Regions from separate parts of the Homo sapiens genome. Here all the other regions are linked to region 2. The links come from fine-mapping of genetic effects on gene expression. A gene starts in region 2. Each other region holds a variant in brackets. All regions are shown on one strand. Distances are from middle to middle. Region 1 has its middle 27 kb from the start of PAQR8. Region 2 holds the start of PAQR8 (progestin and adipoQ receptor family member 8). Region 3 overlaps PAQR8 (progestin and adipoQ receptor family member 8). Region 4 overlaps PAQR8 (progestin and adipoQ receptor family member 8).

Region 1 (5,151 bases), 27 kb before region 2:
GGCGTGATCTCGGTTCATTGCAACCTCCACCTCCCGGGTTCAAGCAATTCTCTGCCTCAGCCTCCTGAGTAGTTGGGATTACAGGCACACACCACCACGCCCGGCTAATTTTTGTATGTTTAGTAGAGATGGTGTTTCACCATGTTGGCCAGGCTGGTCTTGATCTCCTGACCTTGTGATCGATCCGCCTTAGCCTCCCAAAGTGCTGGGATTACAGGAGTGAGCCACCACGCCCCACGTGGACTCAATTTATGAAGTAAGAGTCAGGTGCTGACTACATGATGTGAGAGGTACAGGAAGGTTTTTACATTTCCTATTACTGTGCCTAGAAGCCTACATGGTGGCCCAATCAGGAGGTAGGAATTTTTCTTCTGTCGTCATCTATTAAAGGGGCTCTAGCCCCAACTCTGCCACTGGGAGTTCTGTGAAATAGTTCTCTGAAATTCCATTTTAAAAGAGAAAAAGTTCTTTAGAAAATGGGCATATGGCTAGGTGCAGCTGCTCACACCTGCAATTCCGGCACGTTGGGAGGCCAAGGTGGGAGAATTGCTTGAGCCCAGGAGTTTAAGACCAGCCTGGGCAACATAGCAAGACGCTATCTCTAAAAAAAAATACAAAAATTAGCCGGGTATGGTGATGTATACCTGTAGTCCCCACTACTCAGAAGGCTGAGGTGGGAGGATTGCTTGAGCTAAAGAGGTCGAGGCTGCAGTGAGCTAGGATTGAGCCACTGCACTCCAGCCTGGGCAATGGAGTGACACCCCGTCTCAAGAAAGAAAGAAAGAAAGAGAGAAAGAGAGAAAGAGAGAAAGAGAGAAAGAGAGAAAGAGAGAAAGAGAGAGAGAGAGAGAGAGAGAGAGAGAGAAGGAAGGAAGGAAGGAAGGAAGGAAGGAAGGAAGGAAGGAAGGAAGGAGAGAGAGAGAGAGAGAGAAAGAAGGAAGGAAGGAAGGAAGGAAGGAAGGAGAAAGAAAGAAAGAAAAAGAAAGAAAGAAAGAAAGAAAGAAAGAAAGAAAGAAAGAAAGAAAGAAAGAAAGAAAAGACAAAGAAAACAGGCATACTAATACCTGTCCTGCCTTCTGCACAGGCAGAATGGTGAAAGAGATAAGAGCACAGGATTTGGACTTGGTCAGACCCAGGCTTTAATCCTGATTTTGCCGCTAGTTAGCTGTGTGACCTTGGGCAAGTTATGTATACCTAGCTTTCTCCTCTGGAAATTAGGGATAAGAGTATCAGCTTCACAGTGATTATGACGATTAGTTGAGGTATGTAAGGCATTCAGCACAGTGACTGGCAGGTAGCAAGCTCTCAGAAGATGACAGTTAATTTCATAAGTGGTCCAAAATACCTTTTGGGAGATAATGCTCACGAGTGTTTTATTCACAGGGTTGCTGGCCAAATGAGAAAATGCACAGGAAAGCAAAATGTAACAGGCCTATCAGGATGAAAACACTGTGAGAAAGGTCACACATTAAACCACAAATGTTTTGGGTTCCTTGACAACTAGATTGTGCTACAGAGTTGGTAGGGTAGGGAGGAAGAGGAGAAGCTGAACTTCAACTGCTGCAGTTTTTCCTGGGGCTGGCCCTTGTTAGAATAATAGACACTCTACCATAGAGAGGCAGTTGATTCACCTATACCTGTTGGATAAAAAAGAAAACCATGTGGCTGGTGGAGCTGAGAAAGTGGAAAGAATAAAGGGAGCAGAAGATATATTGCTTGAAATCAGGCAAAAGTTCCATATATCAAAAGCCTCATTCTGGCTGACTTCATCACCAAACTCCCCTCCCAGAGGCCTCTGCCTGGGCTTTTGCAGAAAACATGTACAAACTCTATGCAAAGTAAGAATCCAAAATAGCTTATTTAGAAATAAACCACCTGCTTGTACAAACAGGAAGATCTGAAATCCCTGGAGTTGGGCAAGTGAGTTCCTTGCTTCCCTGCCTAGCCCAGCCTCCTACTGGACCCCCACTACCACAAAGGGATGGAATTACACTCCTTTCTCTCCAGCCTCTTTGCTTTGCTTTTTCCTTTTATTTTTAGTTGTCATGTAATAATTGTACAAATTGATGGGATATGGAGTGCTATTTCTTTTTCTTTTTTTTTTTGAGATGGAGTCTCGCTCTTTCACCCAGGCTGGAGTGCAGTGGTGCAATCTCAGCTCACTGCAACCTCCGCCTCCCGGGTTCAAGCGATTCTCCTGCCTCAGCCTCCTGAGTAGCTGTGACTACAGGCACGCATCACCATGCCCAGCTAATTTTTTGTATTTTTAGTAGAGACGGGGTTTCACAATGTTAGCCAGGTTGGTCTCAATCTCCTGACCTTGTGATCAGCCTGCCTCAGCCTCCCAAAGTGCTGGGATTACAGGCGTGAGCCACCGCACCCAGCTGGAGTGCTATTTTAATACATGCATACAATGAGTAATGATCAAATCAGGGTAATTAGCATATCATCACTTCAAACACTTACCATTTCTTTGTGTTGTGAACATTCAAAATCATCTTGTAGCTTTTTGAGAATATACAATAAATTATAATTAACCACATTCGCAAAGCACCAGAACTCTCACCCTCCTCCCCTCCCTCACCCACCCTTCCCAGCCTCTAATACTCACAATTCTACTCTCTACTTCCATGGGCTCAAAAAATTTATTTTATCTCCCACATGAGTGAGATCATGCGGTATTTGTCTTTCAGTGCTTGGTGTATTTCACTTAACATAAAGTCCTCCAGGCTCATCTATGCCATGAATGACAGGATTTTCTTCTTTTTTATTCCAACCCCTTTTCTTTGTTCCTTCTCATGGGAACACATCAATAAAGGCACCTACTGGTGGCCAAAGGGGGCTCTCTGATGCCACCACCCCATTCCCTATCCTACCCTTTATCCCATCCTTTATTCCTGTCAGAGACTAAACAGAGACAGGGGAATGAGTTTTCACTGTGGATTACTTAATTTTTTTAGGTCACAGTGTTCTAATCAGTAATCATCCATCTTTCTGTTACCTCATTCTGTGAGGCGAAGAATTTAAAGCCTGCTTGAATTCAAGGTCAGGCTGCCTTCTGCAGCTGGAGGCATCCCCAGCAGGCCAAGGCTTCACTCTCTCAGCTGGTGTCAGGGACCCTTAGGGAGTGGACAGAATAGC[A/C]TGTGGAAAGAGGCAGTGTGACCAGCCTTGCCACCTGTTTCACAGGTGGCACTGCTGGCTGAGTCAGTCTGCTAAGGAGGACAGCCCTGGAACTGGTCAGAGAAGGCTTAGTAAATCTCTTCTGATTGCTAACCTCTGAGACCTCACAGCCTATAATTTCCCAAGACAGACCTGTTATTACAAACAGTCAACCTAGTAATCACTGCCCAAGCCCAGGTGTCCTGAAGAAGTAGGGTGGAAGCTTGCATTGAAAAAGGAAAATGATAAGGAGATATTTGCCCAGCAAAGATATTCTGTAGAACAGATAACATGGGCACATTGTACTGCCTTCCTCCATCTTCCCACAGCACCTACCAAAGTCCTGGCAAGCCATCAAATTAGGCTTATAGGTAGCTGCCCTTTCTGAAGGCTACATTCAAATTTTTCTAAAAGATAATTTGATTTCATTCAGTTCAACCCAGTGAGTTTATACATTTATTTTAGCATCTATTCTATGCTTGGTACTGTGAGGATGAGCCATGAATTAAAACATCAGGTCAGCGTATACTCGACACAGTTGTAGAAATGAGAACCTTTACTTTTTCACAGTGAAGACCGAGGAAGCTGAAAAGAATGCTTTTGGTTTTCTTCCCTCTACCCCAGACTCTCCCAAGGCCATACTTTTCTCTCTCTCTCTCACTCTGGGGGAAGAAATATTGAAATTTTTTATCTAAGGCTTTTTCCTAGAATTTGAACTGCATAGGGAACATTGCTTCATCATCAACATTTTCTTTCATTTTCAACCTCTTTCCACCTGCCCTAAAAACATGTTTGAATCTAACCCACCCCTACTGTTCTTTCTCTACCTTCATTTCTTCCTGGGATACAGTTTTTCATCTTTTGCTCATGCAATTAATTATTCATTCATTAATTTAACAAATATTTAGTGATGAACAGTATGAGTAAGGCCCTTTCCTACGCTGGAGACAAAAATGAATAAAGCCTTGTTCCTTTAATGAAGCAGTCCCTAACCTTTTTTGACACCAGGAACTGTGTGGCCTAAGTGAGTTACATATTCCCTCTGAGACTCAGTTTACCCTAAGATTCTGTTAACTGGGAATAACTATGTATTTGAGAGTTATTGTGAGGGTTAAATGATATATCGTGTGAAAAGCTCCTGTCACATGGTCAGTGCTAAACAAATATTAGTCACCTTTCCTTGCATGACACTATACATTCTTAGCTCTTTGCCCATTTCTCAGACTGCTTAACCTAGAATTTCTTTGCTGGATCTGTGTTATCCCTATCCCCCTGAATTGTAGGCATTACTTAATAGAAATTTGTTTTTGAGGGTTACCCAGGATCCCCTCACCAAAATTCCAGGGAAAGTTCAGGACTGTAGTTTGGAGACCCCGCCCCTTCCCACTTCCAGCACCATCCCTCATCCCCAGCCTGAGTGGTCTTGGGACAGCAGAAATGGGGGTGACATGTGACCCAGGTTTGGCCAATCAGAGCCTTGCATTCTCCTGAAAGAACAACGATTGGTTCAATGATGGGCACGACACTCCTCTAGACTTCTTTGCTTATATGAGCCGCGAATTCCTCTTTTTGCTTAAGCTCTTTGGATTGGGCTTTCTGACACTTAGAAGCAAAGGAGTTTGAACTGAGAGAGAAATAAGTTAACACTCACTCCTCATTCATTTAACAAATGCTTACTAAGCATCTTCCATTTACTAAACACTGTGCTAAGAAAGTGGCTAGACACCATCCCTATCTTCAAGAAGCTTATAGTTTCATAAGAGAAAAGTAAGTAGGTAATGACAATACAGTGCTATTGGAACTACAGAAAGGGGCTGTACCACACGCTCTTAAAGCCCATAGAGGGGACAATCTAAGTTGGTGTCATGGAAGGCTTTCCAGAGTGTATAATCTACATGGAGACCCAAAAGATACAAGGCCAGGCAATGATAAGGGGAGGGGTGAAGAATGTTTCATGCAGTGAGAAATGGTAAGCAAAGGCTTAGAGAAAAT
Region 2 (5,151 bases):
GAAAGGGAACTAGGTCTGATACGTGTTGATTGGATTCGCAGTTTAGCATTCTCCTTATTGAGGAAATACTGCAGTACCCAAGATCTTGGCTGTTTCCAGGTTTTGGAAAAATCTCAGGTCAAAATTGTGTTGCCAGATGGGATTATTACATAGAGGAAAGTTGGCTGTGAATTTCCATATACCAAAGGCCATCCTAACTGTCTTTTATGAAGGACCCAACAGGCTTTTATTATAATTCAAAAATAGCCAGGTCACCCTAGGACTTTTTCCAGTGTTACCAAAACATCACTTTTACTGCCCAAACGGAAGTAGGCCATTACCTCACAGTAGAAAATAAAAGAAGCTAGCTTGAGACCAAGGTAGTTTTAAAAGGCATGAAGGATGAGAACCACCATTCTTATTTAGTGGCTCTGGACAGCGTCACTTGGAAACAGAACTGCCTCATGCACAGATAACAATGCCTGACACCCATTACACTTTACATGCACGTTCACATCTGCCTTTTGGATAAAGGGCAAGAAGAAAGGAACATTTACCATTGAGAAAGAATTAGAAGCCTTGTTAGTCTCCTTTTAAGACTTCTTCACATTCCACATGGATTAACTGTTAGGGAGAAAAACACTGCAAAAATAATCAGCAATGCATTTCGGAGGCTCATCAGCTCCCGGCTGACAGCTCACGTTAGTTGGATGAAGGCTGTGGATAGGCTTTTAGATGTGCTAACCTGTAATTTTGTTTCTAGAGTGGCCCAAAGTGGAAGGAGTTTTCACTCCCTCTCAATAAGCCCTCTTGTACGGTTGTGACCTCTGGCCTATCATAGGTTTTTGACGATAAAGGAGAGCCCGGGTTTTTGAGGTTAAGGGAGAGTTCCCTGACATCTTTGGGGTGAAGAAGAGATGGAGGGAGCAAAGCTGCCAAAGACCTCCTGTGACATTTCCACTAGTATCCACCTATAAGTAAGTGCTGGACTATGATTCCCTGGGGAGATCAGTGGCTCTAAAGACAGGCCCCTGGGCTCTTTCCTGGCTCTGACTCAGCTTCAAACCTGCCGTGCAACTGCTCAGAGTCTAAATGTCTTCATTTATGGAACTGAAATAATCCTGCTAAGATTACTTTCTTTGCTTCGTGATGTTTGCCTGAGAATAAGTAGCTGGGACTACAGGCGTGTGCCACCACGCCCATCTAATTTTTGTATTTTTTGCAGAGACAGGGTCTCACCTTGTTACCCAGGCTGGTCTCGAACTCCTGGGCTTAAGCAATCTGCCCACTTTGGCTTCCCAAAGTTCTGGGATTACAGGTGTGAACCATCACACTCGGCTAAAATGTTTTGAAAAATGGAAACATTGTACAAATGTGAGATGTTGTGCAACATGTCACTGAAACACGGTGGTATAAGAGAAGTTTTGGGAACCAGCAGACCAGAATTAGGCCTGAGAAAATCTTACAGTAAGCAGACCAGAATTAGGCCGTCTGAGAAAATCTTACAGTAAGCAGACCAGAATTAGGCCTGTCTGACAAAATCTTACAGTAAGCAGGCCATCTTCCCAGGCCTTCTCTTTTCTCCAGATAATGAAGAAGGCTTTTTAAAAGCAAAGCCAACTTGATTTGTTAATTGATCATCCAACTTCTTAACTGTCTTTTTCTCATGGTAAAATACCGAGAACATTGTGGGTGAGGAGCAAGTCGGGAGGTGGAACCCACCCCCGCACCCTGCCTCCAATAGATTGTATGTGTGGGTCGCTATTGCTGGGACCCACGAAGGCTGTGGATTGAGGACACAGGGTAGAAGTGGGATCTTCTGCAGGTCAGTGTCAGATGTGTCTGTGTGATGTAGTCATGGGAGAGGCGCGAGTCTTGGGCGGGTGTATCTTAGGGGTGTGGAAGTGTCTGCAAGGGCCTCCGTGGTATGTCATCACATTATTTATATCATGGGCATGACCCTGAACGTTCACCCGAGAGTGGTGAGAGAAAGGCCAGGATTTAAATCAGTCTTGACAGCGCAGATGAAGTTTGTTATTGTTTTCCGCCCTTCCCGAGGGACTTCGGAAATGGCCCCCTGAGAGGTGAATTCTTGGAAAGAATATGAGGGCGGTTAAGGCGTCTCTGTCTCAAACTCTCCGGATTTTTTGCAGCTACCAGGGACTGCGAGGGTCTGCGTCCTGGGTGGAAGGAAGCGGCGTCAGTCAACTTCCTCGCAGCGGCGGCAGCGGCGCGGGCTGCAGCGGAGCGCGCGGGTCTGCGCATCCCGCCCCCGGGTCGGGAAGGGGCGGAGCTGGGCGTCACCCGCCCCCGGCGGTCTCCTCCTCCCGGCCGCTCCCCCGAGCCGAGCCCGCCGCGGTCACAGCCACCCGCGGGAAGCTCGTGGCCGGGACCCCGAGGCGGGAGCGCGGGCTGGGCCGGGCTGGGCTACGCGCACGGGCTCGGCCGCCGCCCCTGCCGGTGAGTCCCGCCGCGGGAGGCGCGGAACGGGTCGAGTTGGGTATTGGGACCGCGAGGTCGGGGAGCCCCGGGGCCCGAGCTCGGGAGGCGGGGACGTCAGGATCGCGGCGTTGGGGAGTCCTCGCACCCCGAGCTCAGAGGGGAGGTCCAGAGTCGCAGCGTTGGGAACCTGAGGCCAGGGGCCGGAGTTTAGGGCCCCGATGTTGAGTCTCCGAATCCAAGCCCGGAAGGGGGGACGACGGGTTAGGATGCTGGGGAGCCCTGGAGCTCTGAACGGCTGTAGTGGGGTGGCCAGGACTGCGATGCTGGGGAGTCATGGAGCCTGAGCCTGGAGAGCTGGCGGGGGTGTGGGGACCGCGATGTTGGGAAGGCTGAGCCCGGAGGGCGGGAGATTCAGGACCAAGACGTGGGGGAGTCCGACAGGGCAGAACGAGGGGCGTCCTGTCCGCATTTGTGGGGCGCCCTCCGCAGGGCGGAGGGGAACGGAACCTGGGAGGGGAGTGCGGAGGAGAGGAAGCCCGGGGCGGTAGGGAGAGCCCGAGGAAGGGCAGCCCGAGGTAGGGGAACCCCGGAAAGAGTAGGGTGGGTCTAGGCATGTGCTTTCGCCGGGGAAAGATGGAGGGGGCTTCTCTGAGAGGGTGGGCGCGAGGAGCGGAGTTGTGATGGGAACCGCCGGCAGCTGGCTAATGGGCGGATGCTGGGGCTTGGCTGGATGGGAACGCCGCGGTGGGGTGTCGGAGGTGGCTGGTGGGGCTGGAACGCTGGGAACGTCTGTCTAGGCTATGAGAACGCAGCGCCCTCGGTGGAACAGGGTCGTAGATAACTCGAGAGGGAATCTAGTCTAGGGAGCAAGACCGGGCATCCCCAGACGGAGGCGGGTGGGGACCTCGCACTCAGCGCGCTTGGGGAATATTCGGAGCCTGGGTTTGGGGGCTGCTGCACCTTGCCGACCCGGTGCGGGGACCTGGAGGTAGCCGGGCACAGCAGCTTCCTGTGCAGCTGTGGGTGCTCCAGGCACTGGCAGACTAGTGGGAAGTCCAGGAGCCTTGGCAGGCTCATTGTCTTGACCTAAGTTGCATTCCATATTTCTTAGCTGGGTTAGAAATGATTTTGTCCAGGAACCCAATGAGAAGAGCCTGGGCTAAAAAAATTAGTTATGGAGTGAGATTTCAAATGTACAGGTAATACCTACCCGTGTGTGTGCGCGCCTTAGGGATAACTCATACAATACACTGTATGTGTGATTTTTAGACCCACGTGTGTACTACTTGTTCCAGTACTCTGAGAAGCTGTTTCTGGGTAAAAACGAGGAAAATCCACAACAAATACACACACCAAACAATGTCCACAAACGCACTGCATTCCAGTCGAGTTAAACATGAGAGTATTGTACAGTTTGGGAGTATTTGCTTGTCAGTGAAGACTCCTGTTACTGAAGTTAATAGGAGTTGCCTGCATGGAAGGTAGACTGCCCTTGACTGCCCTGTTAAGGTTATCCACAACGTGTACCCAGCCCTGAGCTGCTGCACCCTTGACCAGGTCAACTGGAAGGGAGCCAGACTGCTTAGGACCTCAGTGGATGAGTATCCAAGTGTGTATCTAAAAACAAAGGACCAAGGCATGGCTTTGTTTTTGTTTTTGTTTTTTATTTCTGCTGTTTGTCCTTGGGTGCGTGTCCTTCAATTATTAGTTAAATGTTGACTATCTTACATTAACCCATCTTGTATTGTTAATTATGTATGGTAATTATTTCAGTTATTTGGCGTAACAACCAATTCTGGAAGACCCAGAGTAGAGGAATCTTATTAAGTGGATATATCCATTGAAAGATATGTTTTTTTTTTTTTTTTTTTTGCGGGTGTGTGTATGCACCAGATTTCCTTCTGGTGCATATAGGTCCATCTTCTGACACACACTGAGATTTGAGCTTCATTGGATAAACAAGGATTATTTTGGCAACTAGCATTTGTTGGGTCTGTTTTTAATTCATGAAAAGGAAATCTTTAATAATTATGCAAGTTAACAGGATAGAAAGCGATTTATTCATTTTACAAGAATCATTTCAGGATAAGCATATTTCCATTAAGGGTGTGTGTATACCTTATTGAGTGGTCAGGACCTTGCATCAAAATCTGCACTATCATTCCTGCAGCAGTGTACTTATTCACTTGGACGTAACACTTGCTGATGCTTCCAATTCTTTATCCAAATGTTAAAATAAATATGCCAGTATTTATACATTCAAATCAGTATTTCTCCCCTTCAAAAGCCTGCTCTTGGCAAGCTGTGTACTAATTCTAGTGATGCTGTCACTACTGAGAATAATTTTGGAGCTCCTGCTTTGGAGTTGCCTTCCGAGTTTGCAACACATTTCCTGATTGCCTCAGTGGTGGCAAACCTTCCTCAGCTGGGAAACAGCCAGGCACTGTGCGGGGCCAACTTGGGCTTCCGAGGTGGGGAATCGAGGTTGTCAATAAGTATGCTCATTAAAGTAATGAAAATTCTCTTGAAAGACTGGCAGTTCTAAAAGGGGCATTTAGTAATGGCATGGAGTATGTATTTAGGATTGGAAGGAATTACAGTTGGTCCCTGAATAACACCGGGGTTAGGGGCTCCCATCATCTCCACAGTGGAAATTTTGAGTACAACATTTAACTCCTCAAAAACTTAACTACTTTGAAGCACAACCTTCATTTTGGTGTTTATGCTCTG
Region 3 (5,151 bases), 39 kb after region 2:
TGAGGGAGGCTGGTGATATGAGAAATAGAAGGAACTGTCAGAGCTCTGCAGTCATGGTCTTCTGCAGACCAATAATAAGGCAGTATCATGTTCCGTCCTTTCTCCCTCAGAACAGACAGATGCCAGTTAGTTCCCAGGTCTGAATTGTGCTCTCTTCCAATCGCTAAACTACTAAAACCCAAAGTTTTAGTCTTTAGAAATTCAGTTGAGTTGTCAGTTTATAAGAACCTGCTATGTGATGGATACGCTATTTTAAGGATATGAAGATTAGTAGGAATTGTGTGGTTATATATTATTTAACTCTGGATGCAGGAATCGTCTGATTGGTTTGGGTTCCCAAAGATGAGAGAAATAGCCTTGATTTTAGACAGCATGCAGACAGGGATACTGGGAGCATCTTTGGGGATTCCTTCTTCTATAGTCACTGGGGTTATACCCAGTGACTCACCTTGATTTCTCCCAGCCATAAAATCAGACTGGTAATTTCATCTGGTTTGCTCTCTACTTCACAAGAGGTAGTAGAAGACTATATCTAAAGAATAGAGCACTTTAATTCCCCAGAACTCCAACAAGCCCAGCACCCCCAGATTATATGTTGCTAACAGCAACAGGGCAACTTGAGAAGTTATCCCACATCCCAGGCCCATTCCTGTAGTTCGTCCACCAAGGTCAGTTGGAGAAACTTCCATCCAGAACTGAACTCTAAGGCACTCGGATCCCTCTGCTGGCTGATAGCAGAAGCACCACTTAGCTTTTTCTTTTCTTTTTGTTTTCAAATGAATTCAGGTATTCTAATTAGCATTTTCTTTCTCTCTCCCACACTCCCTCTTTCTGTGTTTCTCTTTCTGGCTGACTGTAATCCTTAATACACTTCTCTTGGTGTCTTTAATTCCTACATTGAGCTTGAGTTCATAGCCCATTCCTGGTAGAAGACCACTGTCTGATGGGTGCTGGCTAAATGAATGCCTCAATACAGGGTTACAGGGGCTGCCATAGAAATAGGTTCAAGGTATGGAGGGGACATTAGGCCCTGAACTCATGAATGATTCCTGCATCTCATATCAGTGATGGTCATAATAATGGCAAGTAGTTATGCAGACTTGGAACCAAGCACTTTGTTAAACACTTTACAGCCATTATGTCATATAGTTCTTTTTCAGCCCTGTAAGGCAGCTTCTCTGTCATTTACTCCACAGATAACAAAGCTCAGGCTGGATTCATGCAGCTTGTTGATGGTGGGGCTCAGGATGTGAGTTCAGGTCTCTCTGGCACCAATGTCATAACTGCAAACTACAATGACTTCAGATACTCCAGGCTTTCCAAGCCCATATCTTGGCAGAAGTTCTTTGACCTTGCTCTCTGCCTAGAAGTCTCTTCCGCCTTTATCTTTTCTCAGGAATTCTGATTTTTCCTTCAAGATTCAGTTCAGGGTCACTTCAAGAGGGCTATACCCCCATCCTTTCCCTGTTTTGGTTGTTTGCTGAGACCTCTGTGAACCAGTGTTTGTCTCTAATGGAGCACTTATTGCACATTTTTGTGTTGATTCCCCTACATGTCTGTCTCCCCAGTAAACTTTGATCTCTTTGAAGGCAGGAAGTGTATCTTACCAGTCTTTGTATCCCTAGTACCTAGTACCTAGCACAGAGCCCAGCTCATAGCAATAAAAATGACAGCAATATTTCACATTTACTACGCACTTACCTTGGGCTGGGCAGAGTGCTAAGCACTTCATTTTTTAGACCCTCTCATTTAACTATCACACAACCCATATAATATATAGAATTATGAAGAAACTGAGGCTGAGAGAATTCTATAACTTGCCCAAGGTCACCCCAGTAAGTGGCAAAACTGGAGCTTGACTCCAGGTCTCCCTGAACTTCTTTACATTTTATTAATTTTCATGCCCTACACTTTTTTACCTGATTAGGTATTTTTTCTCTTCCAATATTGATTGAGACGTATGAGTAGGAATTACATTTTCTTTGCTAAAATTAGTAAGCACCTTGAACAGTACTTGCTGTATGTGCTCCAGTACTTGCTGTATGTGCTTGCTGTATGTGCTCCATTTAGATAAATCAGATATTAAATTTTTCTGAAGAAAAAAGCTTGGGAAACATAATTACATAAGGTAACTAGAAATGATCAAAATCTATTTCTTTACCTAGCAACTTCAGATGAAATTTTGCAGCAGTTTCATGAAATATTTTATGAAATAATTGCTGTATTCGTCTGTCACTGAGAAATACAAGTGTAAGTTAAGCATTTCTGAAGCCTGAAATTCACCGAGTGCAGTTTTAATTACCCAAGAGAAGCAAATCTAAAACTACTTGCTTTTCAGAGCATAATTTAAAAAATGAACAACAGTCTTTGCAATGAGATTTTATGTTAAATTTAGGTCACATGTTAATTTTAACTGTTAGGATATCCTAGAATGTGCATTGTTCTTTACCAACCTAACTGACGAGTCAATTTGCCTGTCTTAAATATGAGGCTTAGTCAGTTGCTCACCTCATATTTTCAAAGTACCAGTGAAATTAGTGGATAGTTTAAGATTAGGTAGGTGCTAAAGAAATACAGTCTATCATTAGCTATATCAATATTTGTAATTCTTATACTTCAATATGATATTTCATGCTATTAAAGCCTGTTTATTACATTTTAATATCGAGAAAAGCCCATATCCTTTAAAGGTTACCTTACTTATAATTAAATCTTGATAATCATTAAGTCATTGGTATCACTAAATTATGTTAGGGTAGCTAACATTTCCATTTTACAAGATGTAACTTTGCCTCACACTGAGTGTAGTAAACATAGAATATTGGGACAGGCCAGGCATGGTGGCTTAACGCCTGTAATTCCAGCACTTTTGGAGGATGAGGTGGGAAGATCATTTGAGGTTAGAAGTTCGAGACCAGCCTGGCCAACATGGTGAAACCCCATCTCTACTAAAAATATAAAAATTAGCTGGGTGTGGTGGTGCATGCCTGTAATACCAGCTACTTGGGAGGCTGAGGCAGGAGAATTGCTTGAACCCGGGAGACGGAAGTTGCAGTGAACCAAGATTGCGCCACTGCATCCCAGCTGGGCGACAGAGCAAGACCCTGTTTCAAAAAAAATCTTCGGGAGGC[T/C]GAGGTGGGCGGATCACCTGAGGTCGGGCGTTCCAGACCAGCCTGACCAACATGGAGAAACCCCATCTCTACTGAAAATACAAAATTAGCCAGGCGTGGTGGCACATGCCTGTAATCCCAGCTACTTGGGAGGCTGAGGCAGGAGAATTGCTTGAACCCGGGAGGCGGAGGTTGTGGTGAGCCGAGATGGTACCATTGCATTCCAGCCTGGGCAACAAGAGTGAAACTCTGTCTCAAAAAAAAAAAAAAAAAAGAAAGAAAGAAAAAAAAGAATATTGGGACAGTAAGGGATCTTGGTCCAACTCCATTATTCTACAGATGAATTAAAGGAGGCTCAAAGAAGCTGTCTGCAGCTCCTTGCTTCCTCTACTGTACCAGAAAGCCACGTTGCATTAAAATAACCACGGATCCTAGCCGGCCTGGTGGCTCACGCCTGTAATCTCAACACTTGGGGAGGCTGAGGAGGGAGGAGTGCTTGAGCCCAGGAGTTTGGGCCCAGCCTGCTGTACATAGCGACACCCCTGTCTCTACAACAACAGCAGCAACAAAAAATTATCCGGGCGTGTTGGCGTGCATCTATGGTCCTAGCTACTCTGGAGGATCACCTGAGCCCAGGAATTAGAGGTTGCAATGAGCTGTGATCGTGCCACTGCACTCTAGCCTGGGCGACAGAGTGATACCCCGTCTCAAAAGAAAAGAAAATAGCCATAGTTCCTTGTCCGTCTTAGCTGCATTCGTGTCTCACTGCGGCTTTGCCAATTTTCCTTTCTTTTCTGCAGGTTGCATACCCTGTCCTGAGGGCGCGGCACGGAGTGCATGCGGGCCGCTGCCATGACGACCGCCATCTTGGAGCGCCTGAGCACCCTGTCGGTCAGCGGGCAGCAGCTGCGCCGCCTGCCCAAGATCCTGGAGGATGGGCTTCCCAAGATGCCTTGCACTGTCCCAGAAACGGATGTGCCCCAGCTCTTCCGGGAGCCTTACATCCGCACCGGCTACCGCCCCACGGGGCACGAGTGGCGCTACTACTTCTTCAGCCTCTTTCAGAAACACAACGAGGTGGTCAACGTCTGGACCCATTTACTGGCAGCCCTGGCCGTCCTCTTGCGATTCTGGGCCTTTGCCGAGGCTGAGGCCTTGCCATGGGCGTCTACCCACTCCCTGCCTCTGCTCCTCTTCATCCTGTCGTCAATCACTTACCTCACCTGCAGCCTTCTGGCCCACCTGCTGCAGTCCAAGTCAGAGCTCTCCCACTACACCTTCTACTTTGTGGACTATGTTGGCGTGAGCGTTTACCAATATGGCAGTGCTTTGGCTCATTTCTTCTACAGCTCTGACCAGGCCTGGTATGACCGGTTCTGGCTTTTCTTCTTGCCAGCAGCTGCCTTCTGTGGCTGGTTATCTTGTGCTGGCTGTTGCTATGCCAAATATCGTTACCGGAGGCCTTATCCAGTCATGAGGAAGATCTGTCAAGTGGTGCCAGCAGGTCTGGCTTTTATCCTAGACATCAGCCCTGTGGCACACCGTGTGGCGCTCTGTCACCTGGCTGGCTGCCAGGAGCAAGCAGCCTGGTACCACACCCTCCAGATCCTCTTCTTCCTGGTTAGCGCTTATTTCTTCTCCTGCCCCGTGCCTGAGAAGTACTTCCCGGGTTCCTGTGACATCGTGGGCCATGGGCATCAGATCTTCCATGCATTTCTGTCCATCTGTACGCTCTCCCAGCTGGAGGCCATCCTCCTGGACTACCAGGGGCGGCAGGAGATCTTCCTGCAGCGCCATGGACCCCTATCTGTCCACATGGCCTGCCTCTCCTTCTTCTTCCTGGCTGCCTGCAGTGCTGCCACCGCAGCCCTTCTGAGGCACAAAGTCAAGGCCAGACTGACCAAGAAAGATTCCTGAGGCTGGCAAGTGGGGCAACGTGTGGAGGAAGCCCCTCATAATTTGGAGAAAACTTGATACAATAGAAGCTGACTTTTAAGGCATTGGCTTTTAAATTAATACATATATCCAAGGATATGTTATA
Region 4 (5,151 bases), 31 kb after region 2:
TGGGCGGAACACATACTTTAAATTTGTTTTTTCCTTTACATGTCTTTGACTCATTTATTCATTCAAGAAATCTTTTTTGAGAATGTACAATGTGCTAGTCCATCACTTTTCTAAGTGCAGTGGAGACTACAGTGAAAAACCAATGGAGCTCACATATCATGTGTATCTTTGTATAACAATAAATGTAAATATGCTAGTTATTTTAATAAGTGCATAGTATTCTATTTTATAGATTTATCTTAATTTACACAATCAAATACTCCATTTTTGGATGTCGAAATTCTGTTTGTTAGGTTTTGTTAAATATAGGGAGGAAATATGCACTGACCATTGGTGAATCTGAATCGATGTTCAAATGATCTCTGCTAATAACAGGATTGCACTGGTAGTGCCATTCTTTCAAATATGACTTTACAAATAGTGATATGCTCCTTGGAAGATGTAGCTATAAAGATCAGTATGAGCCCAGAGTTCTCTCACTTAACGACTATGGAGATCCTGAGGCATGTGAGACTGTTTCCAACTCCACCTCTGGCTCAAAGGCTGCTTAAAGCACAGTTCCAGTCCTTATAAATGGACACCAAGTTGTCATTTTGGCTGCTATTCCTTTGCAGCCATTTATAATTATGCAGTGATGTGTGAAGCTGGGCTTCTGTGAATTCTGGAAGCATTTCTTTTGCCTTTGATAGGAATTGCTGCTCATTTGTCCTCTATCCAACAACCAGCAGGTCACTTTCCTACCATCTGTGTGAGTCCCACACACAGTGACATGAAGTGATGTCACAGGATCTGTTTGTTGGTGATTCCAGCATGCTGCTTGATGTTCAGTACAAAGCAAAACATAGCCCAGATGAATTACAGAATTTTACAGTATTAGAGCTTATATAGATTACACCCCCATCTTAAGGACAAGGGCACCAAGGCATAGAGAGGTTGAATAATTTGCTTAAAAATCACTTAGAGCACTTTGGGAGGCCTAGGCGGGCAGATTGCCTGAGCTCAGGAGTTCGAGACCAGCCTGGGCAACACGGTGAAACCCCGTCTCTACTAAAATGCAAAAAAAACTAGCTGGGTGTGGCAGTGTGCGCCCTTAGTCCCAACTACTCGGGAGGCTGAGGCGGGAGAATTGCTTGAACCCAGGAGGCGGAGGTTACAATGAGGCAAGATCGCGCCACTGCATTCCAGCCTGGGTGACAGAGCGAGACTCCATCTCAAAAAAAAAAAAAAAAGTGTCACATAGTGATAGAGCTAGAACTAAACATTGGGACTTCTAATTTCTTGCCCAGTGTTCTTTCCAGGGAATCAGCTATTCCAAGTTTGTGGTAGATTCACATAGCATCCTTGTAATAGGTCAGGAAACACTATTGCTTTGGAGTGCTTCTATTTGTCATCCAGATAAAATGTCTTCAGTACCAAACAATGCCAGTTTCCCAAATATGGAGCTTTTCTTTAATTCCCCACTTTGTTAATTTGGGAAAGGCTTTTTAGGTAGCTTGCTATATGCATAGCAGATTTAGTGATCTCATTGTCATTGTGCTTTCCATTAGTAGGCTGATAAATGACCTCAGGTTTATGATTGGAATGTCTCACTACACCAGTTCTGTAAAGCTAGCCACAACAAACCATGTGTCTCTTTAATATGAAAGAAGCCCATCAGATTTATGATCATATTTATCTGGGCTAATAGACCTATTTGGATTATTTGATAGATTCCACTCAGATTTTGTGGAAGTCACATTTTATTCTCTTAGGGAGTATTGGAATCTGATTTACAAGTAAACTCAGTGTCAAAGATCTGAGAAACTTTGCAGTACTGATTGTTTTTGTAAGGCCAACTGCAAGTTATTTTTGTTAATGAAGCAAAGCAGTATTGCAGCAGCATATTTGAAGTTGTATATCAAAAAAT[A/G]TTGGGGTTTAGTCATAGAGGGCATTTTTTGAGGCATAGTGGTTAAGAACGCAGACTTTAGAGTCAACTGCTTAGTCACCTCCTGGATCTATCACATACTGTGCAGCCTTGGACAAGTTATGTAATCTCTCTGTAACTGTTTCCTTATCTGTGAAATGGGAATGATAATAGTACTGGTGTCAGGTATTGTTGGGAAGTTTAAATAAGTTAATATTTTCAAAGCACCCAAAACACTGTCTGGTATGTGCTAAACATCATATAAGTGTTTGATACTATTATTCTGACACTTTCTCTCTCTTTTTTTTTTTTTTTTTTTTGAGACGGCGTCTTGCTCTGTTGTCCAGGCTGGAGTGCAGTGGCATAACCATGGCTCACTGTAGCCTCAATCTCCTGGGCTCAAGTGATCCTCCCACCTCAGCATCCTGAGTAATTGGGACTACAGGTGTGCGCCACCATGCCTGGCTAATTTTTAAATTTAGAGATAGAGTCTTGCTGTGTTGCCAAGGCTGGTCTTGAACTCCTGGGCTCAAGCTATCCTCCCCGTTCGGCTTCCCAAAGTGCTGGGATTACAGGTGTGAGCCACTGTACCTGGTCGATTTGGACACTTTCCATTCATTCATTCATTCGTTCATTCAGTGATTTCTTGGAATATCAATGTGATAGGCACAATGCTAATGATAAAAATATTCTCAGCCCTCAAAGGATCTTGCAGTTTAGTGGTCAGAGAGACATATAATGCAAACCATGTAGGCATACAGTAAGGAAAGTCCTATAATGAAGGACTTTAAGTGCAGTGGCAGTTAGGTGAAGGAGCACCTGAGGGGAAGCCTTCACAGGGACCATTTGAGATGGGACATGAAGCATGAGTAGGAGTTGGCCAGTGGACATCAGTGGTGTGGGCATTCCAGGCATGCATAGAAGCACAAAGTCCTGAGAGGATGGCAGAATAACTGGAACACAAAGTGTCAGAGTGGGAGATGCTTTGGGGACAGTTAAAGAGACGCACAGGTAGGGGACCAGGAAGGCCTCCTGTATCCTACAGAGGTTCCTGTGAGAGATAATAAGGACTCAAATTCAGACAGGGGCCAATGAGAGGGAACCCAGCAGATGGAGGAGTTGGCCAGGAGCAGTGAGTGCAGTGACACGGTTACACCTGTTTCTCAGGTGATAGGAGACGTGCCCAGGTGCTGCTCTGCTTATCGATATAGTTCCTCTCTGAAAGTTAAATGGTCTTTTATGGGTACTTCACGTATTTTTACTGTGTTTTCAGGGGATAACAACTATCACCAAAAACGTGTCATTTCATTGTTTTATTGAAAGTTACTGAAAAGGAAATGCATTTTAGGTAGTTTCCATCAGTCAGAACTACGAAAACAAAACCAAACCTTAAGAATACAGATGATCCCCAACTTAGGATGGTGTGAAAGTGATACACATTCAATAGAAACCATACTTTGCATTTGGGGTTTTGATTTTTTCCAAGGCTAGTGATAGGTGGTGAAATACTCTAGCAATTCTGGGCAGCAGCAGTAACCTGCAGCTCCCAGTCAGCCATGTGATCTCAAAACAACCAGTACCCTACGGTGTCCTCTGTTGCCAGATGACTTTCCCCACCTGTAGGCTAAGTGTGTGTTCTGAGCACATTTAAGGTAGTGTAGGCTAAGAGTGGTTACGTTCAGTAGATTAGGTGCATTAAATGCATTTTCAACTTAAGACGTTTTCAACTTAACAATGGGTTTACTGGGCTATAACCCATCATATGTCAAGGAACATCTGTATTTAGCTTAGTTCTGTGATTTACTTTTAAAAAGAACACCTAAATGCACAATTTTTGGCTAAAATGTCAGATTTTTAACCATGAACTTGGGATTTTTACCCCATTTTTCTCTTTCCATTAAAAAAAAAATTTGAAAGGCGCTTCTAAGATAAATTTTTAAGATTAGATCCCGGCCGGGCACAGTGACTGACGCCTGTAATCCCAACACTTTGGGAGGCTGAGGTGGGTAGATCACCTGAGGTCAGGAGTTTGAGACCAGCCTGACTAATATGGTAAAACTCTGTCTCTACTAAAAATTCAAAAAATTAGCTGGGCATAGTGGCATGCACCTGCAGTTTAGTCCCAGCTACTTGGGAGGCTGAGACAGGAGAATTGCTTGAACCCGGGAGGCGGAGGTTGCAGTGAGCCAAGATTGCGCCATTGCACTCCAGCCTGGGCGACACAGCGAGACTTCGTCTCAAAAAAAAAAAAAAAAAAAAAGATTAGATCCCTACATAATGCAAGGCATTATTCAACATTTTTTAACACTTTCTTATAAACATTAAGTGAATTCATGGTACATATACTCAGTAAATAGAACTTTTAATTCCAATTCCATTATAATCTGACTCTAATTAAAAATCCTTAAAGGAGATAGGGGAGTTCAAATATCCCACTGCTCTAGATGTGTCCAAATGAATGTCCTCCATGGGCACTTCAAACTCAACATTTTCAAACATGTCTTTCAGCCCAGACCTGACCCAGGGAGGCAGTATTATGATGATTCCCAGGAGTGTTACAAAACAAATAATATTCCTTTTTGATTTTAAAAAATTGCATTAAAATCAATTATAAGGTAGAAAATACGTGTGGATAGATTTATTTTTACTAAGTTATATCCTTCAGTGGGCTCTTTATTTGAAATATTACTAGGACTTTATGTACATGTTTTGCCTCTTGAAAGTACTATTCCATTACTGACCATTTTGTTATTATTCATTCTGTTTTCTTCCTAAAAAGTGGATAGACAGGAAATCACCTCCTCTCACCCACCCACCCTTTTTTATGAGGACAATGACACTGAGTAATTGATTGTCTTAGGCATAGCCACACACCTGAGTAGAGCAAATACTAATAGCCAGACTTCCTGACTCCCAAACCATTACTTCTTTTTTCCTTCACCTTTGCAGAAGAGAAAGAAATTGGTGCCATGAGCCTGGGCCTAAAGAACTGTTCATTCAGTAAATAATTATAAGGTGTCTTCTATATGCCAGATATTATTTTCAACATGGGGACTTCTGCACCTAACAGTCCCTGCCTTTAAAGGAGCTGGTGGCTAATGGGAAAGTAAGTGGAGTAAACAAACGAACCCAGCTCCATGAATGAAGAAAACTGGGAGAGGCAAGGCCAGAGTCTAATGAAGGCTGGAGAGAGCCCTAAGCCAGTCTGGGAGTTAAGAAAAGCTTCCTGGTGGAGCCGACTTCTAGTT

Evidence for each region. PIP is the estimated chance that this variant, and not a neighbour inherited with it, causes the effect.
Region 1: its variant is fine-mapped to the expression of PAQR8 in unexposed skin (GTEx, PIP above 0.99).
Region 3: its variant is fine-mapped to the expression of PAQR8 in whole blood (INTERVAL, PIP above 0.99).
Region 4: its variant is fine-mapped to the expression of PAQR8 in whole blood (TOPMed, PIP above 0.99).

Annotation. Positions count from the first base shown.
Region 1 is chr6:52,332,520-52,337,670 of GRCh38, forward strand. No RefSeq gene overlaps it. Among named protein-coding and RNA genes, the nearest start is that of PAQR8, 27 kb to the right of the region's middle. RefSeq lists an enhancer at 4,598-4,767 and a cis regulatory region at 4,683. The variant A/C (reference allele first, on the strand shown) is at 3,142.
Region 2 is chr6:52,359,811-52,364,961 of GRCh38, forward strand. PAQR8 (progestin and adipoQ receptor family member 8) reads left to right here and starts at 2,341. Exons shown (of 2, transcript NM_133367.5): 1 at 2,341-2,439. RefSeq lists silencers at 1,745-1,930, 2,104-2,593.
Region 3 is chr6:52,399,252-52,404,402 of GRCh38, forward strand. PAQR8 (progestin and adipoQ receptor family member 8) reads left to right here. Exons shown (of 2, transcript NM_133367.5): 2 at 3,911-5,151. The coding sequence starts at 3,963. The coding sequence ends at 5,027. Among named protein-coding and RNA genes, the nearest start is that of EFHC1, 19 kb to the right of the region's middle. The variant T/C (reference allele first, on the strand shown) is at 3,132.
Region 4 is chr6:52,391,131-52,396,281 of GRCh38, forward strand. The region is part of intron 1 of PAQR8 (progestin and adipoQ receptor family member 8); the gene reads left to right. Among named protein-coding and RNA genes, the nearest start is that of EFHC1, 27 kb to the right of the region's middle. RefSeq lists an enhancer at 1-284. The variant A/G (reference allele first, on the strand shown) is at 1,907.